Homo sapiens: one gene and its partners. The protein of the gene in region 7 purifies or fractionates together with the protein of the main gene of each other region. This does not show direct contact. Each region holds a gene or a part of one and is shown on either strand. Other genes may lie near its edges. The genes, in order: SHPRH, PANK4, COPS3, CARNMT1, CCT6B, UBE2E2 and DTL.

Evidence for each region.
Region 1: the proteins of DTL (region 7) and SHPRH purify together in Homo sapiens (affinity purification with western blotting, with the first as the bait; 2 studies listed by BioGRID). This does not show direct contact.
Region 2: the proteins of DTL (region 7) and PANK4 purify together in Homo sapiens (affinity purification with mass spectrometry, with the first as the bait; one large-scale study listed by BioGRID). This does not show direct contact.
Region 3: the proteins of DTL (region 7) and COPS3 purify together in Homo sapiens (affinity purification with mass spectrometry; 2 studies listed by BioGRID). This does not show direct contact.
Region 4: the proteins of DTL (region 7) and CARNMT1 purify together in Homo sapiens (affinity purification with mass spectrometry; 4 studies listed by BioGRID and IntAct, with this or other methods). This does not show direct contact.
Region 5: the proteins of DTL (region 7) and CCT6B purify together in Homo sapiens (affinity purification with mass spectrometry; one large-scale study listed by BioGRID and IntAct). This does not show direct contact.
Region 6: the proteins of DTL (region 7) and UBE2E2 purify together in Homo sapiens (affinity purification with mass spectrometry, with the first as the bait; one large-scale study listed by BioGRID). This does not show direct contact.

Annotation. Positions count from the first base shown.
Region 1 is NC_000006.12:145,922,591-145,926,528, forward strand, and holds part of SHPRH (E3 ubiquitin-protein ligase SHPRH), read right to left. Parts: intron 3,707-3,938; coding exon 3,614-3,706; intron 2,257-3,613; coding exon 2,149-2,256; intron 1,196-2,148; coding exon 1,053-1,195; intron 247-1,052; coding exon 73-246; intron 1-72. UniProt on the Homo sapiens protein: E3 ubiquitin-protein ligase involved in DNA repair.
Region 2 is NC_000001.11:2,523,625-2,528,226, forward strand, and holds the start of PANK4 (4'-phosphopantetheine phosphatase), read right to left. Parts: upstream 2,973-4,602; 5' UTR 2,964-2,972; coding exon 2,840-2,963; intron 2,569-2,839; exon of another isoform or gene 1,977-2,568; intron 1-1,976. UniProt on the Homo sapiens protein: Phosphatase which shows a preference for 4'-phosphopantetheine and its oxidatively damaged forms (sulfonate or S-sulfonate), providing strong indirect evidence that the phosphatase activity pre-empts damage in the coenzyme A (CoA) pathway.
Region 3 is NC_000017.11:17,271,148-17,275,085, forward strand, and holds part of COPS3 (COP9 signalosome complex subunit 3), read right to left. Parts: intron 1-3,938. UniProt on the Homo sapiens protein: Component of the COP9 signalosome complex (CSN), a complex involved in various cellular and developmental processes.
Region 4 is NC_000009.12:74,997,250-75,001,187, reverse strand, and holds part of CARNMT1 (carnosine N-methyltransferase), read left to right. Parts: exon of another isoform or gene 1-1,311; intron 1,312-1,317; coding exon 1,318-1,458; intron 1,459-2,411; coding exon 2,412-2,590; intron 2,591-3,805; exon of another isoform or gene 3,806-3,868; coding exon of another isoform or gene 3,869-3,933; exon of another isoform or gene 3,934-3,938.
Region 5 is NC_000017.11:34,951,258-34,955,195, reverse strand, and holds part of CCT6B (T-complex protein 1 subunit zeta-2), read left to right. Parts: intron 1-596; coding exon 597-770; intron 771-3,142; coding exon 3,143-3,246; intron 3,247-3,938. UniProt on the Homo sapiens protein: Component of the chaperonin-containing T-complex (TRiC), a molecular chaperone complex that assists the folding of proteins upon ATP hydrolysis.
Region 6 is NC_000003.12:23,531,678-23,535,615, forward strand, and holds part of UBE2E2 (ubiquitin-conjugating enzyme E2 E2), read left to right. Parts: intron 1-876; coding exon 877-1,024; intron 1,025-2,475; coding exon of another isoform or gene 2,476-2,537; exon of another isoform or gene 2,538-3,938.
Region 7 is NC_000001.11:212,042,172-212,046,109, forward strand, and holds part of DTL (denticleless protein homolog), read left to right. Parts: intron 1-821; coding exon 822-947; intron 948-2,488; coding exon 2,489-2,587; intron 2,588-3,938. UniProt on the Homo sapiens protein: Substrate-specific adapter of a DCX (DDB1-CUL4-X-box) E3 ubiquitin-protein ligase complex required for cell cycle control, DNA damage response and translesion DNA synthesis.

The DNA of each region.
Region 1 (3,938 bases), on a different chromosome or scaffold from region 7:
TTGTTTCTTCTCTAAGAAATCTAGCTTAAAGAAATGGTACCATTTCATTGTATGATTTCTTCTATTACCTACCAGTTGAGAGGAAGTCTGGCTGGTCGGAGGTGACAGACTGTTGCAGACTCAATAACATTACGAGATGGAGGTCCCTCCAGGTTTTTTACAGCCTCTCTTACTAGCTTCTGGCATTTATTTAGCTCTTCCATTTGTGTTGTAAGTAAGAACTGAAGACCTCTGCAATCACGGAACCTGATTCCCACACCAGCACCACACACAATACAAAGAAAAGAATAATAGGTCAATTTCCTCAAATTCAGAGAATGGTTGCCAAACAAAGTGTTAAAGAAACTGTTTGCTGTTTTTTTTTTTTTTAACAGCAACATTTGAGTGAGTTTTCCTTCAGAATGTATTCAAAGTATAATATTGGGCTGTCTACCGTAAAAGATACCAAAAAAATTTGATAGTCCTGTGCTCAGGAACTGAAAAAGAGCATGAAAAATGTATGTCTGTCTCAGATATCTTTGAAAGTGTACGACTGCCACATTCTTCCGTTTTAAGCCTGACTACAGATAGCCTTCCTGACATCCTTGCTCTATATGAGGAGGTGCCTGCAGGATGAAACATAAAAGCAGAATATTGGGAAGAAAGAAGAAAAATGGCTAAGAGTTATATTCCTTGGTTGAATATATATATATATGTATATATACTTAATTAAATCTGTAATTATGCACTATATACGAGGCACTTTGCCAAGCACTTTTCCTGTATAATTTCAATAGTTACTAATGTGCTCACATTATGAAGTGTAAAATATTAAAGTAACTAAAGTAACAAAGGTAGGTCGCAGTTAGGAGTTAAACCCAATTATAGTACCTATAACCATTTTGATAAACTGTGAATAAAAAAGGCTGCAAAAAAGAAGTATGAATGTGTCTGTATAGGTTTATGAATGGAGAAAAAAAGCCGGTAATAATGAGAAATTAGAAACTAGAAAATACAAGGATTTCTTTGCTTTTAAAATTATGAGTAGATACTTTTTCTTCCTGTTTTCTTACTTCTCTGACATAGAAAGCTTGCCAGTTTGTTGCTTGTAGTTGCTGGTTATTTCATTTCGCACTCGCTGAACTAGCTCCTCATCAATAGTAAATTCTATTGCTCTGTGGATCACATTTAGCCACCAAGGAGAATTAGAATGAATCTGTAAAAAAGGTAGCAGTTAATCAATTAATACATTTTTTTTAGTACTCACTAAGCTTCCATCACTGGGCAGGGTGATGCCAAAATTCAAAGAAAGTAATAAATGCTATTCTCAAAGGGACTATCACAGAGGGGAGACGAGTATACATATTCCATGTACAATGCTCGCTTCCTCTTTTGAAAATATAATTAAAGAGAAACCCCTATTTCCTAACTACTCTGGATAAATGGGAATTTATTGAATGCATTTATATAACAAAGCTGTAACTAAAAAAACTGTTTACGCCAAATGAAAATTCAATACTCAATCTATATGTGTGAAAAGGTCACAGGTCTCTTTATCAGCATAAGAAAGAAAGCCTTCATTCTAATCTTTAACTAACTGAACCAGATTCTACTTAATGAATAATCCACAATAACTCACAAAATTATATCCCAGAATACTAAATAATGAATGAATTAGAAAGACAAAAATTTGCAACACCTGATTTAAAAACTGAAAATAAAAGTGTATTTGTGTAACCTCTTTAGATTTTGCTGCTGATTTCATAAAACTGAAATTTTAGAAATGACAAGTGGTATATATTCTGCAGGAAAAATACCTGTGGTTCTAATGTATTAACATTTTAAAACATCTCAGAAACAAGATAAAAAGGAGGTTATAGAAGTCTTTACTTTCTTCAAAAGACAACTGTTATATACTCATGGTAAGAGAAAACCCATGAGTTCAAAAGAAAGAGAACTCAAAATAGTTGACTTATTTATGCATCTGTTCACTCAACCAATAAATCATTGCTAACAGTAAAATAAACTTGTATTGTGGGTCAGGCAATGTGCTAGGTGCTAAGGATTTCAAAATGTATAAGAAATTCAAGTTTCTCCCCACCAAAAAACCAAAACTCAAAATGATATCTGGAGGCAAATACAAGTAAGAAACACTGCATTTTGGCATACCTTTCTTTGAAGCTCATGGATGGTCTGCTGCACAGGATATAAAGCTTGCTGGGCTTCAGCAACTTCTGTATTACACTTGCTCATGTAGTGCTCTCGCAGCTGTTTGGCCTGTGTTGAAACAGAGAATATAAACTTTCACTCCCAATCTAGAATATAATTCAGTATGATGTTTCAAGAAGAATGGGTCATTTTATACATTTAAAGCTACTTAACTGCATTTAAACATAAAAGTCCAAGTATACTGTAGAGAACATAAAAGTCACGCTAAAAATTCCTTATATATGGAAGTTAACAAAATTTACTTGTCCAAGTAACAAAATTTCAGAAACACCGAATATTTGTTTGCCAATTTCTTATTTAATTTTTTTTTTTAGTTAGAATAAGCAAAGAGGGGAAAAAAAGAACAGTAATATTTCAAATGATAGGCAAAGCAAAGACACCTTTCTAAAATTTGGCTAATTTAGTTATTAAAATTCCTTAGTTACTGCAGTTTAAAAATAATCCTTGAGAATACACAGTAACACAGGTGTTAGGAACTGAATTTTGTTTCCCCAAAATTCATATGCTGAAGCCCTAAGAAAGTAGATTTTAAATGTTCTCACTACACACACACACACACACACACACACACATGCATGCAATAAAAATAAAGAGGTAATTGATTTAGTTTGATTTAGCTATTCTAGTGTCTACATACATCAAAACATCAGTCTCTACTCATGAATAGATAAAATTTTTGTTAATTAAAATAGTTTACCAGGGCACCTCCGCCCCCAAAACAACCAGTGCAAAAAGGCTGTGCTTATTTATATAATCTCATTTTTTATCCTGTTGACTCAAATAAAGCCTCCACTTACAGGTTCAATACATTTCAAACATACCTACTCTTTTGATTTTAGCTCTTTAATGTTTAACAACAGCAAAAATCCCTGGAAGAATCTGCATAATAAGCTATTAACAATTTATAGTAAAATAATTTATAATATCACTCTTTTCGATGTCATTCTTTTCAAAAAGAGGCGACACTTTTTGTAGAGGAAACTTCTTTGGGAGAACTACCACCAAAAATTTGACTTTATTTACCCCCTTAAAAAATACACAGAAATGTGGAGAAAGTGCAAAAGTTTGTATATTTACTAAGCTACCTCTTTTGTAGATCTGCCATGAGATCAAAGTTTCTTTTTTAAAACTCATTTATTTACATCCCATTCTGTTGGCTACCAACAGCCATATCTACAACAAGCATTTATCACATAACTGCAGGTAGATCAGCAGAGAAGCCAAATAATACGTACTGCTGCCATTCTCTGCTACCCAAAATCACAACAAAATTCGAAACATCAAAGTAACAGGAAAACATGATTACATTTATTTGTATGTTGTATGTCCTAGGATATATCAACTATATGGAGCATAAAGTTTGAAGAAAATATACTTTTATAGACAGAATGAAAAAAATAATTACCTCTTCCTCAAGTCGGCCATCACGCAAGGTAGGTGGTATCCCTGGGTGCCTGGCTATCAACAATTCCATCAAGTTATGGGTAGCATGAAGTCTCTACAAACATATCAAAGGCAGTAATTATGACAGTCAATGCAGAAGACTCTGAAGAGAACCTAATATTAATATGGCACACAGAACACTAACACCACATTAAGATCATATCACCAAATACTTTTCCTATAAAAAAATCTGAGTACTACTACTTTGTTTTCTTTACTCAAGGGCAGGGTGTTAAGGTCTAGGACCTGCCTTTTGTAACCCTTATCCATGCAGAATATCAGATTTA
Region 2 (4,602 bases), about 210 Mb from region 7:
TCCCTCCCTGAGACCCCTGCACGGAGAGGCCCAGCAAGGCCAGTGTTCCGTCTGCCTACTCCCCACACCCGGGGGGACAAAACGGGACCTGAGGCGCGAGGGGCACGCACAGCAGGGAGATCTGTTAGAGCAGAGGGAACCGCCTGCGGGCGGGGACCCTTCCGGGCTGAGCTCAGGGACCCCTCGGAATCACAGCAAACCGCGCCTGGCAAGGCAGTGACAGGAGTGCCTCCTGGCGGCTCTCCGGGCTGCCCGCGCTCGGCCCTGAGGCCAACAGCTGGTGGGGGAAGGGGGCTTCCCAGAGGTTTGGTCACCTGTGCTCTTCACATCTGAGCCATGGCCTTCTAGTTCTCCCTGTCCCACAGGCCCCATCCCCTCTGCCATTCTCTCTGGTCCTGTGTTTCCTCTTTGGGCACCAATGGAGGGCAGGACAGCCAAGCAGACACCACCGCCCCGTGGCCCCTTCCTGTCTCACCTGCCTCTGAGGAACCCTCCCCACAGCCCGCAGAAACCTAAAATCAGATCGAAGCTGCAGTATGTTTTGAGAAATACAACGTCCCTGCTGCTTTCAAAGAGGTGAATCTGCTCAGCAGACATCAGCGTCCCATCGAGAGGAAAACAGCTTGCCAGAACACAGGGCAGGTGAGCTTTCCTAGATCCAGACACAGGCAAGGGAAGAGGAAATGGGAGAAGCCTGCTTTTAAACAACACTGTTGACAAGCACTTTGGCTTTGAGGGTTCCTGGGTTGAAGACACCCCACCCTGAGCGTGGCCTCCCAGCAGCTCGGTCAGGAGTAACAAACAAAAGGTCTCTCAGTATCAGTCAACAGGTCCTCTTAAGAACCAGAGACACAGGACCCAGACGCAGGGAGAAACTTTGAAGAGGGGAAATAAATACCAGCACTAAACAGACCTCTTAGAGTATCCTTCTACCAAGAAACCCCCTGGGCTCAGCCTGGAGAACAGGCTGGTACTCCAGGGCCCTCTAGGGCTGCGACAGCCCTTCCTGGACAGCCCCAGCTCTGCGGCTTCACTGGCCTCTCGGGGCCACACAGAACATCCACGGTGAGCCCTGTTCTCCTGGCCATTCCCCAAGTGACTTATGCAGGTCAACTGCAATTGCATTTCAGAAACATTTAATCCCGACTTGCTTCCAGTAACAGAATCCCCCAGTGTAAGGGCAGCAGAACCTTGCAGAGCACACGCTCTACCGGGCCTCAAGGTCTCAGAAGGCTGGGAAGCATGGCTGGGGAGCCTCTGGTGAGGCCTGCGGTAGACAATCCCCTAGGCTAGGGCTGCAAGCTCAGCACCTGCAGCCCAATAACCAGTCAGTCCCAAGTCCTATCAGCGGTCCCTAAAGATGCTACTCACACGTTCTCATACCTGGCACCAGGCCACACCCCCTAAGAAGCATTGCCTCCCATAAGCTCACTGAAAGGTGGGAGCCAGGACCTATAGCTACTTCCATTCTCATCGCCCCCCACTTCCCTAGAGGACACCCTTCCCTGGCTGGACATCTCAGAGAGATGATGACACCAACAACCCCGAGGACACCACAGCAGCAAACATGTCAGATGCACCAGGAGCACACAGCTCAGAGGGAATGGCCTGGGTCTCTCTGAGTCCCAGCTTTTCCAGGGAGGTGGGAAGCAGTCAGCGGCAGGCCCATTCATCCCAGTATTTACTGGGCGGCAAAGACAGGTTGGGCATCCTTTTCGGGGGCTGGGGCTACAAGACACACCGCTGCTCTTGTGGGATTCACACACAAGCAGACTCAGCCTACGACCGAGATGAGTGCTAAGAGGGAGAGGTATGTGAAGCCGCAGCGGCTATTCAAGGGGGGTTTCTCCAGGTGAAGCTGCCCCCAGGAAGCCCTCATGCCTGAAACATGGGCAGAGTAGGAGAGCAGGGAGTGGCTGGTTCAAATCCTGGTTCTGCCACTTTCTAGCCCGATGACCCTGGGCAAATTAGTTCACCTTTCTGGGGCTTGGTATCCTCATCTGCGAAAAGGGAGTAATTCGCGTTCCTCCCCTAGAGGTGGCTGGGAGGTGTCCGGGAGTCAGGAGCGTGGGAAAAAGGTCTAGAACAGAGCCTGGCCCGCCGTCATTACTGAGAGCACAGCCATCAGGCAGGAGGGTCTGCAGCGGACCCTGGAGAGGCCAGGGCAGAAGTGCAGGCCGCCTTAAAGGCCACGGAAGGCACGGGTGGCTTTTAAACCAGAGGCACGAGTTCCCAGGTCCCACGTCCACGGCCGCCTGAACTCACGCCCGGCGTCCACTCTCCAGAGAGCGGGGCCTGTGCACGGACTGTCCGGCCCGCGGGCCACAGCTGGCCACGCCGCGGGAACGCGCGGCCTTTTCGGGGCCACTCTGCCAAGGGCTTCCCGCCGAGCTCGTCCTCGTCTCGACCAGAACTAAGGACCCCAAATCTCAGGCCAGCCACCAGCCAAGCGGCGGAGCCGGGGCGCCCAGATGCCGATGTGGCCGAAGACATAAAATTCCGCCGACCCTCCCACCTCGCGGCGGGTAACGCTGGACCCCGGCCCCCAGCCACCCAGGACGGCCGCGCGAACTACCAGGCCCGGCAGGCCCCGCTCTGGTCCCTGCGGCGCCTGCCGGTAGCTGTAGTCCGGCCGTCGCCCCGAGCCCGCGCATCAGCGACCCTGCGGACTACAAGGCCCGTGAGGCTGTGCGCGGGCCCGCGGACTACAAGGCCCGTGAGGCTGTGCGCGAGGCCCGCGCCCCCGCCCTTCGTCCTTCCCGCCGCCCCCGCTCGCCGGCCCACCGCCGGCGCCCCGCCCGCCCCCGCAGCCCGCGCCCGGCGCCCGGCCTGCGGCTACCTATGTCGATGGCGAAGCGCTTGGCGTTCTCCAGGTTGCGGAAGATCTCGTCGGGGGGCAGCGTGATGCTCTTGTCCAGACTGTCCCCGCTGCTCCCGCTGCCGCTCGCTCCACACTCCGCCATTTTGAAAGTGCCCGGCCAGCTCATCAGCCATGGAGATATATGCGCATATATTTGACTGCCAAACGCCCCCTCGCATAGATTATGTTAATGAGGCGCCGGCCCCGCCCCTTCCCTCCCCCACCCCCGGCCTCTGAGGTCTCGGCCGCTACAGGGCGAGCTAGGGCCAGTGCTGGGCAGGGGTCCGAGAGGCCCGGGGCTGCGGGCGGGCGGGCGGTTATCCTCCAGAGATCGCGCATCAGCACAGAACATCTGGACTGATGTTCTTTTACCGCGCTGTCCACAGGCTTAACTCAAGTGCTCTGAGCCCTGCTGAGGGAGGCCGCAGAGGCCGCCCACCTGCTTCTAAGGGGGCACGTGGGTCTGCAGACTGTCAGAGAGCCCTGCCCTTCAGCGAGTGCCTGCTGTAAGCTTGGCCCTGCACGCCAGGGCGAATGTGATGCGCTCTTTGCTAGGGTGACTCAATCCTGGCTTCCCAGGGGCGTGGGACTTTCAATGTTAAAAGTCCCATGCAAACCAGAGGAGTGGGGAACCCTGCCCCACCTGGGAGGAGCCCCAGCCTGGCATGCACCTGCGGGTAGGGAAGATGTGTGCTGTAATGGCGATCCGTGGAAAGTGCTGTGGTCGGGGGAAGCCAGGCAGGCTGCCTGTGGGCAAGACAGGTGCCTGGGAGGCTGCAGGAACAAGCCTTGGAAGCAGCTGGAGCCAGGACAGGGGTATAGGTGGGGCAGGCCAGGGTTCCAGGGTGAGTGGCTGGGAAGCCCTGCTGGCATGAAGAGATGCGTCTTCTCCAGAGGCTCTGGGCGCCTTGGGAAAAAGCCCAGTGTTGGAAGCAGACAGATCAGCCCCTCCCGGGTAACCCGGGGTCATTACTGCATGTCTCTGGCCCTCAGCCTCTGTCTGCACGTGGAGAATGCCACCAGCTGCCTGGCAGGGCTCCTGGGAGCACAGGCCTGTGGGGCGGCACAAACTCCAGGGATAATGCATCTGTGTGCGCAGGGCAAGCCTTCAGGGAGGAGGCATCCTTGCCTGTGTCTTCCAAGGGGGTGGGTGTGTGGCTCTGGAGGGGGAGCCTGCCCCAGGGAGGCCTGGGTGGAAGAGTGGAGCACACCCCAGGCGGCTTAGACCTCTGGCAGCTCAGACCCCTGGCAGCATGGTGTGCCATGGGCCAGGCTGGCAGGAGGTGCCCTCCATGAGGGGCGCCCACCTGTGTGCCCACTGAACATGCGGGAAACATGCAGGTGAATGGGGGCCTTCCCTGTCCTCTGCCCACCATACCCCGGGGCTCGGTAGGGACCACTGGCAGGCACTGGGTTGGTCTGGTGGGGGGACCCTGTCTAGACTGCCTGTGGAGTAGCCAGAAAGGGGCTGAAGGCTGAGCGGAGCGAGAGGGGCTGAGCAGGAAGGAGCAGGCAGGGCAGGCCCACACACGGGGCTACCATTCAGCGGGGGTGGGAATGCGGCCCACTCCGGCCCAATCCTTGCTGGATGGATTTTGCCCCTTGGGAGCTGGTCCCTGGGAGCCACAGGCCTCAGTTCTTGCAGACTCAGCCAACACCCTGTGGCCTGCCTAAAAATACATGCCCTTTCTGAGGCAAGGGATGGCCCCGTGCAGGCTCCTGCCAGGACTGCCAGATCCTGC
Region 3 (3,938 bases), on a different chromosome or scaffold from region 7:
AGGCCAGGACAGTGGCTCATGCCCGTAATCCAAGCACTTTGGGAGGCTGAGGCAGGAGGACTGCTTAAGGCCAGGAGTTTGAGACCAGTCTGAGCAACATGGTGAGACCCTGTCTCTACTACAAAAAATAAATTAGCCAGGCGTGGGGGTACATGCCTGTAGTTGCAGATACTTGGGAGGCTGAGGCTGGAGGATCACTTGTGCCTAGAAGGTTGAGGCTGCAGTGAGCTATGATCATGCCACTGCACTCCAGCCTGGGTGACAGAGCAAGATCCAGTCTCAAAAAACAAATAAATAAGAACTAGAATCCATGAGATTTTCCTGACCTGGTTATTTTGCACAATCACTATACAGAACGGACACAAATAAGGGTTAAGAAAAATATGTTTAGGCCTGGCGCAGTGGCTCATGCCTGTAATCCCAGCACCTTGGGAGGCCAAGGCGGGAGGATCACCTAAGGTCGGGAGTTCGAGACCAGCCTGATCAACATGGAAAAACCTCGTCTCTACTAAAAATACAAAAAAATTAGCCGGGCGTGGTGGTGCATGCATGCCTGTAACCCCAGCTACTCGGGAGGCTGAGGAACTGCTTGAACCCGGGAGGTGGAGGTTGCAGTGAGCTGAGATGGTGCCACTGCACTCCAGCCTGGGCAACAAGAGCGAGACTGTCTCAAAAAAAAAATCTATATATATCTATATATATATATATATACACACATACACACACATATGTTTAATAATATATATTAAATAATAAACATGTATATATTAAACATATATGTTTTATATATATATATATGTTTAATAAGGAACAACTTTCAAGATGAAAAATTCCACTAAATGAAGCCAAATAGGCTGGGCATGGTGGCTCAAGCCTGTAATCCCAGCACTACGGAAGGCCAAGGTGGGCAGATGGGCAGATCACAAGGTCAGGAGTTCGAGACCAGCCTAGCCAATATGGTGAAAACCCATGTCTGCTAAAAATACAAAAATTGGCCAGGCACGGTGGCTCACGCCTATAATCCCAGCACTTTGGGAGGCCAAGGCGGGTGGATCACCTGAGGTCAGGATTTCAAGACCAGCCTGACCAATCGGGTGAAACCCCATCTCTACAAAAAATAGAAAAATTAGCCGGGCGTGGTGGCAGGTGCCTGTAATCCCACCTATTTGGGAGGCTGAGACAGGAGAATTGCTTGAACCCAGGAGGCAGAGTTTGCAGTGAGCTGAGATCGTGCCACTGCACTCCAGCCCGGGTGACGGAGTGAGACTCGTCTCAAAAAAAAAAACTCCTTTATGTTTATACAAATCCTGAAAATTTGTTTTAAAAAATGGCCATCTCAATTGTGGGGACTATAGTTTGCATTTATCTGAATACTTTTATCCATGTAATCCACAGGAATGTCCACATTTTCTAAATTAAAAAGAAGTTCGGAGGAGTACTGCCACAGGGCATGGCAGAATACATTGAATGAAAATATTGGCTGGGCACAGTTGCTCATAATCCCAACACTTTGGGAGGCCAAGGTCGGAGGATCATTTGAGGCCAGGAGTTTGAGACCAGCCTAGGCAACATAATATGGCCCTATCTCTGCAAAGAATAAAAATATTAGCTGGGTGTAGTGGTACATGCCTATAGTCCTAGCTTCTCAAGATGCTGAGGTGGGAGGATTGCTTGAGCCCAGAAGTTCAAGGCTTCAGTAAGCTACAATTAAGCCATTGCACTCCAGCCTACATGACAAAGTGAGACCTTTTCTCAAAAAAAGAAAAAGTATCAAAGATCCAAAGCAACATTGCTTAGAATTCCCTTCAAACAAATTTAAGCTATTTAAGACCAAATTAAATAGACCTTATTTTAATTGGGGTTCCTTGTAACCGTGTACTTGACAGTAGAATTCTTTTTCTCTTGATGTTATAGTATTATAAATTGGGATATTGTGGTTGTCATGACATTTGAAATGATATAAATAAACTGAGAAGAAATTGACTTAAAGTGAGAGTCTGGCTTCACTTACGCTGGGATTCCTGAGACAAAGGTATGTGTCCGGAGCAGAGTTTAGAGAAGAAGCTTTGTCAGAATGGAAGGATCTAGAGTTATGCTCTGCAGTATGGTGGCCACTAGCCATATGCAGCTATTTAAATTAAAATTAAAGATTCAGGTGCACTTGCCATGTTTCAAGTACTCAGTAGCCACATGTGGTCACATGTCCTTGTCTTAGCACAGGTTTGTAACATTTCCACCACTGCAGATAGTTCTATTGGACAGTGCTGGTAAGGATTTCTACTGTCTGTATTTTCTTATTTATATGAAAGAGCAGATGCTGGGCACAGTGGCTCACACCTGTAATCCTAGCACTTTGGGAGGCTCTGTTTGAGACCAGCCTGGGAAACATAGCAAGACCCCATCTCTACAGAAAAAAAAAGTGGCCAGGTATGGTGGCTTATGCCTGTAATCCCAGGACTTTGGGAGGCTGAGATGGGCAGATTGCTTGAGCTCAGGAGTTCAAGACCAGCCTGGGAAACGTGATGAAACCCTGTCTTTACAAAAAAACACAAAAATTAGGCGGGCGTGGTGGTGTACACCTGTGGTCCTGGCTACTCAGGAGGCTGAGGTTGGAAGATCACTTGAGTCCATGAGATTGAAGCTGCAGTGAGCTGTGCTCATGCCACTGCACTCCTGACTGGGTGACAGAACAAGACCTTGTCCCCCCAAAAGAAAAAAAGTTAGCTGAGTGTGGTGGCACATGCCTGTGGTCCCAGCTACCCAGGAGGCTAAAGTGGGAGGACTGCTTGAGCCTGGGAGGTCGAGGCTACAGTGAGCTATGCTTGCACCACTGCACTTCAGCCTGAGTGACATCAAGACCCTATCTCAAGAAAGAACAGAGAGCATGCATGTTTTATACACACATAAACTCACATAAACATATATATCAGGTGAGTAATGGACATGAATGCATTTTGAAGGTATAAGGTGTTTACCGTTGTATATGTTAGATAAGGTATGGAAAGAACCCTGAGCTTCTGGCTGAGGACCCTGGTTTTGAATCTACATATTCTTCCAATTTTGAGTTGTGGGGCCCTGAGCTTCATATTTTTATTTATAAACTGGCAGTCGCAATGCCTCACTGACCTATTGTGAACCCCAGATGAAATTGTTTCTGACATGTCTTGATAATTACAAAGTGTAAATACAGATGTATGGTGACATTGTTAAGTCAAATAATACAGTATAGATGGAAGCAGATAAACCAAAAGATGTAGTAGAAATTATGATTAGCTTTTCTTTTTTTTTTTTTTGAGACAGAGTCTCACACTCTGTCACCCAGACTGGAGTGCAGTGGCGTTGTCTCAGCTCACTGCAACCTCCGCCTCCCAGGTTCAAGCCATTCTCCTGCCTCAGCCTCCCGAGTAGCTGGGACTACAGGTGCATGCCACCACACCCGGCTAATTTTTGTATTTTTAGTAGAGACAGGGTCTCACTATGTTGGCCAGGCTGGTCTTGAACTCCTGAACTTGTGATCCACCCGCCTTGGCCTCCCAAAGTGCCGGGATTACAGATGTAAGCCACTGTGTCTGGCCTAATTTTTCTTGAAATTACATTTCAATCGTGCTTTTTTTTTTTTTTAAAGAATTTGAAATTTACTTACAACCAATGCCTTAATAGTGCTAAGTTTACATGATTTCTCCCCTAAAACCTATCACCAGTGCCTCCTTGGAGTGTTTCTCATGGCAGTCTGAGTTACTTGGGAAGGATCACCTGAGTCCTCCCTCTTCTCACCACTCTACTCCTCTTGTCCTGCCTATCAGTTGTTCTGTCAGTGTTATTCTCAGATAGACCACACAGCTGGTGGCAGCATCTTTAACTTAAGCTGCTGCCCACCTCCAGCCAGCCCATAGCTCTCACTCTTGGCCCCCTTAGTATGTTCTCAAAGCAGGAAAAGC
Region 4 (3,938 bases), on a different chromosome or scaffold from region 7:
ATTTACTTCCAAATCCTTTTGCTTTCTGTTGCATGAGTTTGATCAGATAATTAAAAAAAAAATTCTAAACTGAGAACAGCCACTTGCTGGGGTAAGGGTAGAAATGCATGTTATGATTGGACAGATGGGAACTGAGAAAAGAAAGGTAATTCTCCAGAGTAGGGGTTTCGGTGGGTCTGGTAGGGAGTGAGAAATGAGAGAGCGTTAGGTCTGAGTAGGATGCCATCATGGCAGTTCCCTTATATAAGGAATAGCACAGAGTCCTAGAGCTATGAGTTTTCAAAAGCCCCATAGTGTTCTTTCTTATTTTGAAGTGGGACATGCAAAGGTTATATGGGCTACTAGTAAAGTGCCCTGTTGCTGCTTGGAGCATGCCAAACTTAAAGGCCACATAGTTAAAGATAAAAAAATCATTAGTAGGAGTAGATTTGGAAATTGGATTTGATTTGTGAACCAAATTTAGGAAATACAGTAGTGAAGTTTCTTTTTACTTCCTGACATGATATTAGCTGATTGTATACATTTTCCTTTGGCTTCTTATAAGACTACAATTTTAGTTTCCTCGGGATTATATTGATTTGCCAAAATTCCTGAGAAAAAGCCTTGTTTTGGTAAAACTTTTAGTGGTTTGAAAGTGGAATGATGGATCTTACGTGAAGGAAATATGTAATGGCAGTGTGGTGCTAGTAGGTAGAGATCAGTTTGGTTGTGAACCTCTGGTTTGGTGTAATATATTTGTTATCATGTATGTTTAATTAGAGGGCCGTTTCCCATTTTCCCCATGAAAATATCCCCTCCCCCAAATTCTTCTGTCAACTAAAATATATAGGGATTTAGAGATATACCTGACACATTAAACTCTACATCTGTTTAATCTAACATAAACAATTGAGTTACATATAAAATTTAGAAATAAAGTTATGTTGTATTTATTGTCCCATATGATGAAGTACTTTTGTTCAAACTCTTCATATTTAATTGGGATCCCTTTGGAATAATTTGTCTTTCTAAGATAGTTGTTCAGGGTGACAGCTATTAGGAATATGAGTGACTTTATAAGTCTTGAGATGTAAGGGGACTCCTTTTTTCTGAAAAATAATTTTTGAGGGGTAAAACCCTCATCTGATATCGGAACATACATAATAATTCCTTATACCTTTTATTTTTGATATTTAGAAGTATTTCTTGATTGTGAGAAGTCAGAGTCTTAGCTTATTCTTATTGAGTAAATGAGTAAGTTTTTAGTTGTTAATGTGGATTTTGTCTTTTCCTTTTTTTCTTTGAGGGGTTGGACATAATTGCCTTATTTCATTTCAGGGATCCTTCTAAAGTAAATATTCTGGTACCTGGTGCTGGACTAGGAAGACTGGCCTGGGAAATAGCTATGCTAGGTTATGCTTGTCAAGGAAATGAATGGAGTTTTTTTATGCTCTTTTCTTCCAACTTTGTACTCAACAGGTATTTAATTTATTTTTTGCTGGAAATAGTAATTTCTCAGAATCAGATTGACTTACCTATTTTCTTGAACAATTTTGAATTTGAAGATAAGTACATAGCATTTGATTATTATATATATCACAAATGTGTCTTATGTTAAAATCAAAGTACTTACACAAATTATCACTTGAACCAATTGCCTAGTTATTAGAGTGTTGAAACAAGATGGGTAAGTGACTTTATAGAAAGTGACTGGGCATTCCATGAAATGATTTCTGTACAAAATCTTCAGGACTAAGTATGAACCAGGAAGGAGTATTTCTAAATTTATTCCTTAAGCTTCTTTACTTCCTTGTTTCTTTAGTTAAATAAGAGTTTAGTTTAGCAATTATAACTTTTTCTCCTTAATCAAGTTCTTATAAAATGGCCAAGTATGCTCTCATGACTGAGTTGGAAAGATCTCTCAGAACTTCTGTGGCCTCTTTTGGAAGGCAGTGGAAAACAATTGTTATTTTTAAAGCCAGAAGATGTACATTGAGTAGCTGCCTTGTTTAAATAATATGTTGTCTCGGATGGCAGTATGAGTTTTAGGGGATTGGTGAAAAAGGGAAAAAAGAAGAGGGTTATACAAAAAATAGCAAACTGTTTTAGTTGAAACCAGTACCATTTTAAAAAACCTCGTTGGACTGTTATTACTTGGTTTTGAAGTTTAGAAATACATTTTTAAAAATCTGAATGAACAGCACATTTATATCTCTGAATTTACTTTTTTTTTCTGTCTTTAATCCATTGATTGGTTGCTCATCTACATGTATATGTACATTTTCAGATAATTAGGGAAGCTGTAATAGTGACTCTTTAAATATTAATTATATATGCAAATCTTCAATTAAACAGTATATTTTTAGTATTTAAAGTGGATTTTCTTGGTAAAATATTTAGTTAACACCTGATTTTATACTCATATTTTGCAGATGTTCTGAAATTAATAAATATAAACTTTATCCTTGGATCCATCAGTTTAGCAATAACCGGAGATCAGCTGATCAGATTCGACCCATCTTTTTCCCTGATGTTGACCCCCACAGTCTTCCTCCTGGTTCTAACTTTTCTATGACAGCAGGAGATTTTCAAGAGATTTATTCAGAATGCAGTAAGTCCAAATCAAGCGTTTAAAAAGTCTTGTCCTTTATTCTAAATTTAATGAGCTAGTTTTATCCTAAGCCAAGGTTTAGATCATTCATTTTGATGGTAGAACATAAGGCATATGTCAGTGTCAATTTAGAATGTTTTCAAGGTCGTGTACAAGGCAGTGATAGGAAATAAGAAGTGTAAGATATCTACAGTCAAGAAATTTAGAATCTGTTGGGCCCATTAATACTAAGAGATACCATGTAAACAAAGGTTAAATGAGTAATGAATACCAAAAAAATGAAAGGTTATTAGTGTAAGAAGGAAGCTGTTCATAGTGAGGCTATGACTTGAAGGTTGAGAGAATAGCATTTGAGGCAGACAGAAGTACAAAGATATGAACAAGGTGATTGGGGATGGCAGCACAGCTGTACTGGCAGGGAAAGAAAAGATTTAATGGGAGATTTAATGAGATTTAATAGGAGCTATTGCTAGAAAAGTGAATTTGTTCCAGATCATGGAGGACTTGTATAGTCAGGCTGCACAGTTGACTTCAGCCTGGCAAACTGTTGAAGAAATCTGAGCTAGGCAGGAGAGAAAGGGAGATGGTAATAGGGAAAGTGGAGAGGGAGATTGGCACTAAAAGGAAAGCAAAATAGAATACCGAGGGTTCAGCAAGATCATTGAGTCAATAGGTATTTGTTGAGCACCTACTAAGTACTAGGTATTTTTCTAGGTGTCAAAAGAGAACAGTGAACAAAACAAAATCCCTGTCCACAGAGAACTTCCAATAGAGAAAGTGAGGCAATAACAAATACAATATTGTAAGGAAGAAAAAATAAGGCAGGGAAGACGGGTTACAGAGTGACTGGGGAGAGGCTGCTGCTTTATATAGAGTTGTCAGGGAAAGCCTTTCTAAGAGTAGAAACTAAAAAAAAAAAATGTCTAGTAGAGAACCTTGAAAGAGTACACAGACAAACCACTGAGATATTTGAAGGCAAAATTTTGCAGATGGGGAATGGCAAGGGAAGAGGATCAGGGAGTAGAGTGAGTGCTTGCTCTGCTCAAGGAGGAGCTAGGCTGTAGTAAGCAATGGGTACAGTGGTGAGAGGTCAGCCTCGAGAGGGTTTGATGAGGCAAACTTGTTGGCAGGCCATAGCAAGGACTTGGAATTGTACTCAGAGAAACAGGAAGCCATTGGAGGGCTTAAAGCAGGGATAGCAACAACATAGATTGTTTTTATTTATTTATTTATTTTACAACATAGAAAGTTTTTGTTTATTTTTCTCTGAACTCTGAGACTGGGACAACCTGTACTCTGAAGGAAGAAAGGGAGAGATGGAAGATGTTAGGTGTTGTGGATAAGGAAT
Region 5 (3,938 bases), on a different chromosome or scaffold from region 7:
ACTAGTTCCTGAGCTGCCTTTTATGCTTCATGATATTGCTACTTTTAAGCCATTTATTTTGTAGAAAGTCCCTCAGTGTGGATTTGCCTATTTCCTCAATTAAACTTAGGTTACAGATTGTTGGCCAAAATACCATAGAACTGTTGTGTTCTACTGAATGCATCATGTCAGCAGGCATGTGATGCCTGTCTGTCTCATTATTGTGATGTTAACTTTGATCACTTGGTGAAGTGGTAGACACCACAGTGTTCTATCTGCCACTTTTCCCCAATTCAGTGGTGGTTCTTTTCCTCTGCATTGAAAGGAATCTTTTTATGTGTGCCCATTCAGAAGGGCACCACATAACAACAATGTAGTCATAATTTTTGGAAATAAAAAGGACTTCTGTAATTTTTAATACTAGACTTGAAGCCTTACTGTTAAGGTTGAGATTATTTCAAGTATGAAGCACTAAAATGACTTTTATAAATTATGTACACTTATATTTCATGGCATTAATGTGAGTAACTTTTTTTGAACATAATAATCAGACAGGTTGGTTACTTTTACATTGGGTGACTTATTTTATAATTTATAATTTTATGTTGATGTAACAGGGCCTGCACCCTAGAATAATAGCTGAAGGATTTGAAGCTGCAAAGATAAAAGCACTTGAAGTTTTGGAGGAAGTTAAAGTGACAAAGGAGATGAAAAGAAAAATCCTCTTAGATGTAGCTAGAACATCATTACAAACTAAAGTTCATGCTGAACTGGCTGATGTCTTAACAGAGGTATGTTATTAAACTTTTGCATTCAGAACAAATATAGCCTAATGCATGGTGATATTTTTCTTTTTCTGTAAGATAATCAAGTATTTCATGTGGTTTTTTGGGCATAAAATATGGAAGACAGACAATTATTGTATAGGCCTAACTGTAGATTAGATTTGACTGGTCAGAACAGTATTTGTAATTTTCAGAAGTATCATACTAGGCCTTTTTTTAAACGTGACTTGAAAGGTGGGAGAGGTTTGGCTGCCTGCAGATCATCTCCTGTGGAAGCTCTTGAATAGTATACTGGTCTTTTTAAATCTAGCAGTCCATATTTTATTATGTGAGGTGACACACAAGATAGTTGTTTTAGCAGTGTACCTTGTAGATAAGGTTACCAATATAATGAAATGTGATATGATATATTAATATATTAATATTCACATATTGGAAATGTATGTTTGTTTAGTTTATTTCTTTTATTAATTTATTTGAGACAGAGTCTTACTCTGTCACTCAGGCTGGAGTGCAGTGTCATGATCTCAGCTCACTGCAACCCCCGTCTCCCAGGTTCAAACGATTCTCCTACATCAGCCTCCCGAGTAGCTGGGATTACAGGCGCGTGCCACCACGCCTGGCTAATTTCTGTATTTTTAGTAGAGATGGGGTCTCACTATGTTACCAAAGCTTGTCTTGAACTCCTGACCTCAAATGATACACCCACCTCGGGCTTCCAAAGTGCTGGGATTACAGGCATGAAGTCACCACATCTGGCCAGTGTTTTGTTTATTTCTAAAGGTAGAATATATGTTATATAGGCTGGGCATGGTGGCTCATGCTTGTAATCCCAGCACTTTAGGAGGCCGAGGTGGGGAGACGACCTGAGGTCAGGAGTTTGAGACCAGCCTGGCCAACATGGTGAAATCCTGTCTGTACTCAAAATACAAAAATTAGCTGGGCATGTTAGCAGGCACCTGTAATCCCAGCTACTTGGGAGGCTAAGGCAGGAGAATCACTCTGGGAGGGAGGGGGAGGTTGCAGTGAGCTGACATCATGCCATTGCACTCTAGCCTGGGTGACAGAGTGAAACTTTGTCTCAAAAAAATATATATATATATATATATATATTTTATATAAAGACAAGATTGGCTGGATATTTTGGGAAGGCTTTTATCAGGTGGCAATGATTTGATATCATTATTGTTTTTCAGCTTTGTAATTTCTGAAACTTGAATATATTTGTTTACCAGGAAGAATGATAAATTCTTAGGAAACAAATTCACAAGACATTGACATACAAAGCAGAATACTACCTTAATAATTTACTTTGAGAACTACAAATGCCAAATGTACTGGAATACTTGAGTTGTTTCTGATCGATTCTCCTTACCGTTAAAAAAAAACAACTTGGGAAATCAGATTAAGATCAGACAATTTCTTGATGAGCAGAGTCAGAAGAAAGGCTCTGCTGTGTTTTCTGCTGTTAGAGTACTTGAATGGCCCCAAATCTTCATGCTGCTAGGGCACCCATTCTGTTTTAGAGTTACAGAAACAGTGATATTCTCACTATCCAATGGCCTTTGTCCTATTTCTTATTTGCCTCTAAAATAAAATATTATGTCACCTCAGGCAAAGTTTTCTAAGATACAGTTTTTTCTGCTTTATGTATATTTTAGGGTAGTTATAACTTAGCCCTTAATTTCTGCAGTTATTTATTATTTTTATATCATTTTCTGAGCTAAGCAATAAGACGTGTTGTGCTATGCTTCTTAAATTGTATATCCCTGGTCATATGTGACAGAATAAATGAGACGTAGCTTTCTGGAGTGTCAATTTTACTTTACAATTTTGGGGGAAAACATTATTTTTACATTGAGATAAACATATTATGGGATGACATGGAAACTTTTCACGATAAAACATGAGACTTTAACGTTTCCTGTTATTACAGCCAGCAAATTGGAGCTATTACCTTAGATTACCTTTCCTTCTTTTCCATTAAGGTGTCCTTTGGTGGAAAAGTTTGGATAGTCTTGGTATGATAGAAAGAGTAGTCGCTGGGCAGTTAGGGAGCCCTGAATTCTAGTCCCGGCCCTGTTACTAGCTGTTAGATCTTATTTAAAAACTGTGACTTCTTAAGGTCTTATCTCAGTTGCCTTATCTGTAAAATAAAAGGTTTGGACCTAATGATCTCTGAAGTTTCTTTAGACTCTAAAGTGTCTGTTGGCATTGGCTATTGTTAGCATCCATAGTAAAGTGGCACATATTGGTCTTGCCCTAGGTTTTGAATCCTGAAGGCTTTTATCTCCTTAGTCTGGTGATAGATTGTTTGGGCCCTTGGTTTATTTTAGTAGTCCAAATAACTTAACTGTTCTCATTCATTTCTCTTTCAGGTTGTGGTGGATTCTGTTTTGGCTGTTAGAAGACCAGGTTACCCTATTGATCTCTTCATGGTAGAAATAATGGAGATGAAGCATAAATTAGGAACAGATACAAAGTAAATTACATAAGCTTTGACAACATATGGGTTCTAGAATTTTTTAAAGATATTCTTTTATTAAATTCATTACTTACTTTTATTCAACATAAATATATTCATTCACCATATATTAAGTCACTGCTCTAGGTAATGGGAATGAGAGTAAACAGAACAGAATTTCTTTCCCCAAGAAGTTTATGTTTCTAATTGAAATAGAAAAAAAATCATGTGTGTGATTTTATAGTGGACAGGGAAGACTACTCTGATAAGAACCTGGAGAGCTAAGAGGTCTCTGAAGAAACAAGGGAGCTAGCCATGTGCACATCTGGAATAAGAGGGTTCTAAGCAGAAGGAATGACCTCTGAAAGGGTCCTGAGGCAGAAGTGTGACTAGGTTGTTACAGTGTGCCTGGAGCACAGGGAGAGGAGGTGAGGCAAAAGGGACCAGATTATGGAGTACCATGTTGATTTTGGATTTACTCTTTTAAAACTTTGTATTATAGAAAACTGTGAACATATATAGAGAGAACAGAATAGGGAATTTCCACATAACTGTTAGCTATCTTTATCAATTTCTAACATATGAAGCATACCCTTCCCTCTTTCCCCCTCCCACCTAGGATTATTTTGAAGCAAATCCAGACATCATATACCACCTGTAAATATCATATAATCCATAAAACATAAACCCCCTGCTTTTACCTAATATAT
Region 6 (3,938 bases), on a different chromosome or scaffold from region 7:
AAATAGTAAATTGTAACTACTATAATTATACTAATATAGTTCTATGAACTGGGCATGTTATTTATATAAATGCCTTAGTTTATGTTTTAAAACTGTGTTATAGGCCGGGTATGTTGGCTTACACCTGTAATCCTAGCACTTTGGGAGGCCAAGGCAGGCGGATGACTTGAGGTCAGGAGTTCAAGACCAGCCTGGCCAACATGGCAAAACCCTGTCTCTACTAAAAATACAAAAATTAGCTGGGTGTGGTGGCGGGCACCTCTAATCCCAGCTACTTGGGAGGCTGAGGCAGGACAATCGCTTGAACCCGGGAGGTGGAGGTTGCAGTGAGCAAAGATCACGCCACTGCACTCCAGCCTGGGCAACAGAGCGAAACTCTATCTCAAAAAAAAAAAAAAAGAAAAAAAAACTGTTATAGAATAATATTTATTTTCTTTGTATTAGTACTCTCATGCTTTTTGGTGTTTGAATATTATAAATGTACAAAATCCTTAAAATAACTGGAATCTAACAAAAGTTTTCTTTGAAATTTTTTAGAAGTCAGAGTCAGTTTCTCCCCATGAACATTCCTGTAGTTGTATCAAAAGTAAATTCAGTCCCTAAAACATTTGTTAAATAACAGGACTCTTTATAAGAAGCAGAATGTCATGGTTTTGCTGTTGATGTTTATTTCTCTGTGCCCAAAATGACAAATTCTAAAATGATGATCTCTGTTGATTAATCTCATGTGCCCAAGAAAAAAATCAAGTGTATGTTAACCAATAGCCTGGGCTATTTTGTCTGATAAAATAGGCAATTTTATTAGACAAAAATTGTCTATAGATACTGTTAATAAACACTTTGTCTAACAAAATATAACTTTACATTTTCTTGTAGGTTACCTTCCGAACAAGAATCTATCACTGTAATATTAACAGCCAAGGTGTGATCTGTCTGGACATCTTAAAGGACAACTGGAGTCCGGCTTTAACTATTTCTAAAGTTCTCCTCTCCATCTGCTCACTTCTTACAGATTGCAACCCTGGTAAGAGACTTTAAATCTAGTATGAATTGGAGCTTGTCAAGATTTAAATGTCAGACCCTTAGTAACTTGTTTACTACTGCTACTACCACTACCACCACTGCTTCTACTACTATTATTGTTAAATTTTCATAGTATGTAACTATTTTCTTTTTAAATTGGGTCTTCTCATTAGTGTTTTTAAGACCTATCATTTGCCAAAAAGGAAAAAGTATAGTGTGGTAAAAAAAATAATGAAAAATCATTTTAGATGGGAAAGTACGTTTAAAGAATGAATTAAGTTATCCTGCCAAATAATAATAAAAATTCAAGTTGAATAGCTTAATCTTTAATTAGATGCCTACTAGAAGATGTTAATTTGAGGAATGTGGGCTATTAAAATCTGATAACAACCAGGCAGCACCATGCAGACGTGACCTTTTTGGCATCCTAGTAACTGTGCATCCTGACAAGCTATTATAACGGTCCTGAATGGTCTGTTCTAGGAAATACCCCAAAAGTAAACAAGGAAATACACCTCCCAAGAAAACGAAAAAGTCTATAGCCAGGCCTTTATGGCTTGCTGGTGTGCTTACCACTGAAAATTCTTAATTCCTGGGCCATGTCTTTACAAATTGGGTTTATTTTAGAAAATACAAAAATCCAAAGATAGCTATAGGGTTTTCATTGATGTTCTCAGTGGGAGAATTATTTTATGAGTAATTAATAGCTTAAATATTGCATGAGATTCCCTCTTCTACAATCATGAGTAAACTCTGTTCACTGGATACATGAAATTTTACACAAATGGAAATGACGAGTATCAGTGGGGTTGCTTAGGATCCTGGCTGTTTTATAAAACATCAAGAAATAACAGTCTTTCTACTTTTATATTTCTTTATTTTTCAGCAGTAAAATCTTTTTTAAAGTAGCAAATTAGTATTTTTTTTTTTTTTTTTTTTTTGAAACTGAGTCTCACTGTGTCACCCAGGCTGGAGTGCAGTGGCACGATCTTGGCTCCCGCAACCTCCGCCTCCTGGATTCAAGCGATTCTCCTATCTTAGCCCCCCAAGTAGCTGGGATTACAGCCGTGTGCCGCCAAGCCCAGCTTATTTTTGTACTTTTAGTAGAGACGGGGTTTCACCGTGTTGGCCAGCCAGGTCTCGAACTCCTGACCTTGTGATCCGCCCGCTTTGGCCCCCCAAAGTGCTGGGATTACAGGCATGAGCCACTGTACCCAGCCTGCCCAAAAAATAAAATTGTGCAGGATCATTATAAAATATTTTTTGAATTAATTCATACTTTACTACAGACAGTAAAGTCCAATAATGTTATACTAATTTAAAGTTAATTTTGTTCTTTCAGTCCTGTTGTTCCCATTTTAATCCCATTTGTCTGTGACTGTGTATAACCTTGTATAACCTCATTTGGAGGTAATGTTGCAAGAAGGCTTTTTTTTTTTTTTTTTTTTTGAGGTGATTTCGAAGCCTGGCCTGCTTTGCCTCCAAGTCAGCTGAAATGGAATCTGTTACCCTGAATAAGCCTGTATATGACAGCCTGTTCTCTCTACAGATATTCCTGCTTAAAGGAATAGATTCATTCCACCAAAGCCTTCTCTCAGCAATCAAAAAGACTTCTGTTCAGTGAACTAGTTTTTTTTTTTTGCTCCGTTTCAGAAAATTACAAATGCATTCTGCAAAAACTTAAAAATCACTCCTAACTAAAGCAGAACCACATAAGTAAAAGAAATAGATTTTGAAATAATGCTATTGATAGTAAGAACAAGCCTAAAAATAATGTTCCATAAAACCAAAGACAGCCTGCCTCATATGAGACTAGAAGAGAATTTGTAAAATACATGCTAACATTTAGTTTATCACACTTTTTAACACATAAAAATAAAGTTTCCTAATTGGTTTTTATGAATGTTGACACTTCTAGAATCTTAAATAGAGTTGTTTATTTTAAAGTAGTCAAATGTCCATTCTTTTGCTTAATGGACTTATTTCACACTGTTATCTGGTACACTTTCAATCTCTGTAGGTTTTTTTACCTACAGAGGTAGGAAAGATTAGGTTAGATTGAAGTTTATCTTAAATCTATCTTCAAATTATCACAAAAACAAGTTTGATAGAATAGGAATAAATAAGATTTTCCTACACTGAATCTGTAGAGCTATTTTAACCCGGAAATGCTGTCACCTCAAAAATAGGCCTTGTATAATGATACAAATTTAACTCACTTAAAAAATACTTTCTCACTCTTATCCATACATAAACTTATTTTCTAAATCTTTTTCATACTCTTTTTGTAATTTGCACTTGTCTCTTTAAAGAATTTTTGGTCCATTCCAACACAGATGTTCTTTAGGGTATGACTACCCATCCTTATCAGCATGATATTTGTAGACAGCAGATGTAGATTTGAAAACCAGTTTAATTGTTTATTAGTCATATCACATTGGATGGGTCACTTAACTTTCCACAGGCTTAGTTTTTGATATAAAATTGGGATTAGTACCAGCCCTGCCTAAATCACTGGATTCCTCTGAGGTTAAAATGAGATGGTATATGTGAAAGCCATTTATAAATGGTAATGTGTTGTTGATATTGTTACCCAGAGTATTTGGGACACCAAATGGGCCCACAATAGGTGACCGATAAACACCTACTCAGTTGAATTTAACTGGGGAGATAGTATCGAATAGTATCTAACGCCGTCACCTCAACATTGACACTTGGATTTTACAATCGAAAAAAGCTGAACCTTGACTTAGTAGGATTATCACTCAGGTGGCAGATGTCCAAACGTTATCAGCCAGTCGATGGGTGCACCAGCAATAATCATTCTGTTTTCAATGCAATTGTCTAGGTAGATCTAACTGCTGGTCTTATTAGGCCACCACTTCATGATGGTGTTTATTGAGCCTGATAGAGCA
Region 7 (3,938 bases):
TTTAAAATGTCTTGATCACAAATCAGTATAATAAAAACAAATCTCTGAAGATGTCTTTACTATGTAGGAGCATAGTGCACATTAGACCTCTGACCCAAGCAGAATAAACTTTTCTTCTACCCTGAGTCTCTTGTTCTCTGTTCTAAATTCAGTGAAAATTTACCCATCTTTCAAGACCTCCTGTAAAGACTCCCTGACCCACTACCACTAGCCAGGGCTAATTAAATGTTTTCTAGGGGTAGGTACATAACACTTCACTTTACAATTTCTCTAATATAATTTAAGGTACTATAATTGCTGCTATTGACATTTTAGATTCCTACAATTTCAGCACTAAAGGAAAACAGAAGTAAATTTGGTGAATATGTTACTGGCTATAGTAGCTGCATTGACATATTATTTTCTTTGGCTCTTTGACCATTGGATTTTGTATGATGTTCTGGAATAAGAATTTAATTGAAGGGGATAGCAGTTTTAATGGAATGCTTTTGTGGTTGTCTCTTTGGTAGGAGAAGGGGGAAGATCTTTCTTAATATGCAGAGGCCTCTTGTTTCTTCTAATCTCAATGTACTAGTGAGAGTCTCCATTTTAGATAGTAAGCCCAAAGCTATACCTCCCCAGAAGTTGGAAGTGCTCTTTCATTTTTTCCTTAGGACTCCTTAATGAAATAACAGAAATGGTGTCTTCCATAGATATTAATAGTAAGTGGATCTATGTTAATATCTAAAGTTTCTTAAGGACAAATATTTACCTCTGAATTTGTTAAAAATGCTGAAATGTGATGCTGTATTGGAATTCTATAAGGAATTATCTTGTTTTAGGATGGTCTTCACAATACCCTCTTCAATCCCTTCTGACTGGTTATCAGTGCAGTGGTAATGATGAACACACTTCTTATGGAGAAACAGGAGTCCCAGTTCCTCCTTTTGGATGTACCTTCTCTTCTGGTAAGAGAATTACTATCTAGGCAAGGCTTGGACAGAAATGATCTATTTCACACTTATAGGGAAAATATACTAGAGTATTTCCCTTTCAAAGAAAAGTAAATTAGGTGGATGTTAGAGTTTTTGTAAAAACTGTTATCTTCTGATTTATAAAATAGACTTTTCTTAATCTCTATACATCATTAGCATAACTATATTTCCTCTAAAGCATAGGACTATTATAGCACTATTTTTAAAAAATCAATATAAGGAAGGGGTTGCAAAGGTTCAGCTACTATGAAAACTGTTTTATCCAGTAGATACATACCCTTTGATCTGGTTGAATGTATCTTTCTGTGACTCATTGGGGAATATATGAACAGAAATAGAAGTACTTCAGCCAGGCTCAGTGGCTCACACCTAAAATCCCAGCACTTTAGGACGCCAAGGTAGGTCTGGGCACAGTGGCTCACACTTGTAATCCCCGAACTTTGGGAGGCCAAGGCGGGTGGATCACTTGAGGTCAGGAGTTCAAGGCAGCCTGGCCAACATGGTGAAATCCCATCTCTACTAAAATTGCAAAAAATCAGCTGGGCGTGGTGGCGCACCCCTGTAATCCCAGCTACTTGGGATGCTGAGACAAGAGACTCACTTGAACCTGAGAGGCAGAGGTTGCAGTGAGCCAAGATCGTGCCATTGCATTCTAGCCTGGGTGACAGTGAGACTTCATCTCCAAAAAAAAAAAAAAAAAAGAAATAGAAGTATTTGTCTCCACCCATAATAGTTTGAGAGGAAAGAAAAAGTTGTGACAAGGAAATTTAAAACTAATAGACTCCTTATAAAAATTAGCCGGGCATGGTGGTGCATGCCTGTAGTCCCAGCTACTGGGGAGGCTGATGCAAGAGAATCGCTTGAACCTGGGAGGCGGAAGTTGCAGTGAGCTGAGATCACGCCACTGCATTCCTGCCTAGGTGACATAGCGAGACTGTCTCTCAAAAACTAATAGACTATTACATAGTCATGATTGTGGTAAAAATAAGTAAATAAAAATATGGTTAAAAAAACTAATAGACTCAGCCTGCTGGCAGCCTACATCATCATATGCCTTTGTTTGCCATTGGCCAGTACCACTCTTGTTTTAAGTACTACCCTCGATTTAGCCCTTCTCTAAATAAGAGATTATCTGAAGAAAATTTTGGTGGTTTTGAGTAAGCTTAAAAATTTTTGTAGCTAGGCATGGTGGCTCACGCCTGTAATCCCAGCACTTTGGGAGGCTGAGGTGGGTGGATCACTTGAGGTCAGGAGTTCGAGAGCAGCCTGACCAGCATGGTGAAACCCCATCTCTAGTAAAAATACAAAATTAGCTGGGCGTGGTGGCGCATGCCTGTAATCCCACCTACTTGGGATGCTGAGGCAGGAGAATCACTTGAACCCAGGAGGTGGAGGTTGCAGTGAGCCAAACTGCACTATTGCACTCCAGTCTGGGTGACAGAGCAAGACTCCGTCTGAAAAAAAAAAAAAAAATTGTGTTACTCTATATATTTTTTTCTTTATTTCTGCTTTAGCTCCCAATATGGAACATGTACTAGCAGTTGCCAATGAAGAAGGCTTTGTTCGATTGTATAACACAGAATCACAAAGTTTCAGAAAGAAGTGCTTCAAAGGTAAGTCTAGGTCTACAATTTTTGTTTTAACATTTAAAAAACTTTACACATCCTCAAGTATATTATTATTTGAACACATTCTGTTTTAGTCTGTCTTCTGTTGCTATAAAGGAATAACTGAGACTGGGTAGTTTATATAGAAAAAGTTTACTTGGTGTGTGATTCTGCTGGCTAGAATAGTAGACATCTGGTGAAGGCCTCAGGCTGCCCCCACTCCTGGCAGAAGGCAAAGAGGAGCCCATGAATACAGAGGTCACATGGCAAGAGAAGGGTGTACTACCAAGCTCTTTTTTAACAATCAGCTCTCCAGGGAACTAATAGAGTGAGAACTCACTCATCTTTTCACCTCTTAGGGAGGGCGTTAATCTGTTCATGAGGGATCCACCCCCATGACCCAAATGCCTCCCATTAGGTCCCACTTCCAACTTTGGGGATTAAATTATAACATGAGATTTGGGAAGGGACAAACATCTGTAGTATATATAACACATTCCCAATGATATTAACTTCTGATTAAGTCTTTTTAGGGACCAGATTAGATGTGAATGGTGGACTGCCTATCTGTCAATAACTGTTAACTGTGACAATGCCTTTACTCAAAGTTAAGAAAAATACTTTTTAGGATTAAAAACAATTCTTCAAAAAGTTAAATCTTTAACACTTAATGTGATTAGAGAAGTGTTGCTTTAAAATACTTATATTAATCAAGCATTTTTCATGTTTAAAGCAAAGTTCTAACCTTAAGAAGCTGATAATTTGGAACCCATAAGTCAAGTGTTGAAATAACTGAAATAAAACAAAGACTATAAATGATGTAGAAGTAGAAAGAAAACACACTGGTGTCAAAGAGAAAGCTCTCATGTAGTAAAGAAGGCTAGGAAAACTTACGAAGCATGGGGCATTTGAGTTGGATTATGGTATTTAGACCAGTGGAAATGGAAGGGGGCACTCCAGGTGACGGGAAAAGCATTAGCAAAGGTCTAGAGATAGAAAAGCATAGGATATAATAGGAAGTGACCAATTTGTTTGGAATAAGGTATCGAGAACAGTGAGAGATGAGGCTTGCAACCAAGATAAAGACTAAAGAATGCAAAATGTTGAATGTCAAACTAAAGTATTTTACATTCCATTCAGAGAGCATCATGAAGTTCTTTTTGTTTTTGGTTTTGTTGTTGTTGTTGTTGTTGTTGTTGTATTTTTGGTAGAGATGGGGTTTCACCACATTAGCCAGGCTGGTTAACTCCTGGCCTCAAGTGATCTGCCTGTCTTGGCCTCCCAAAGTGCTGGGATTACAGGTGTTAGCCACTGTGCCCAGCCAGTATCATGAAGATTTTTGAACTGGAATATATTT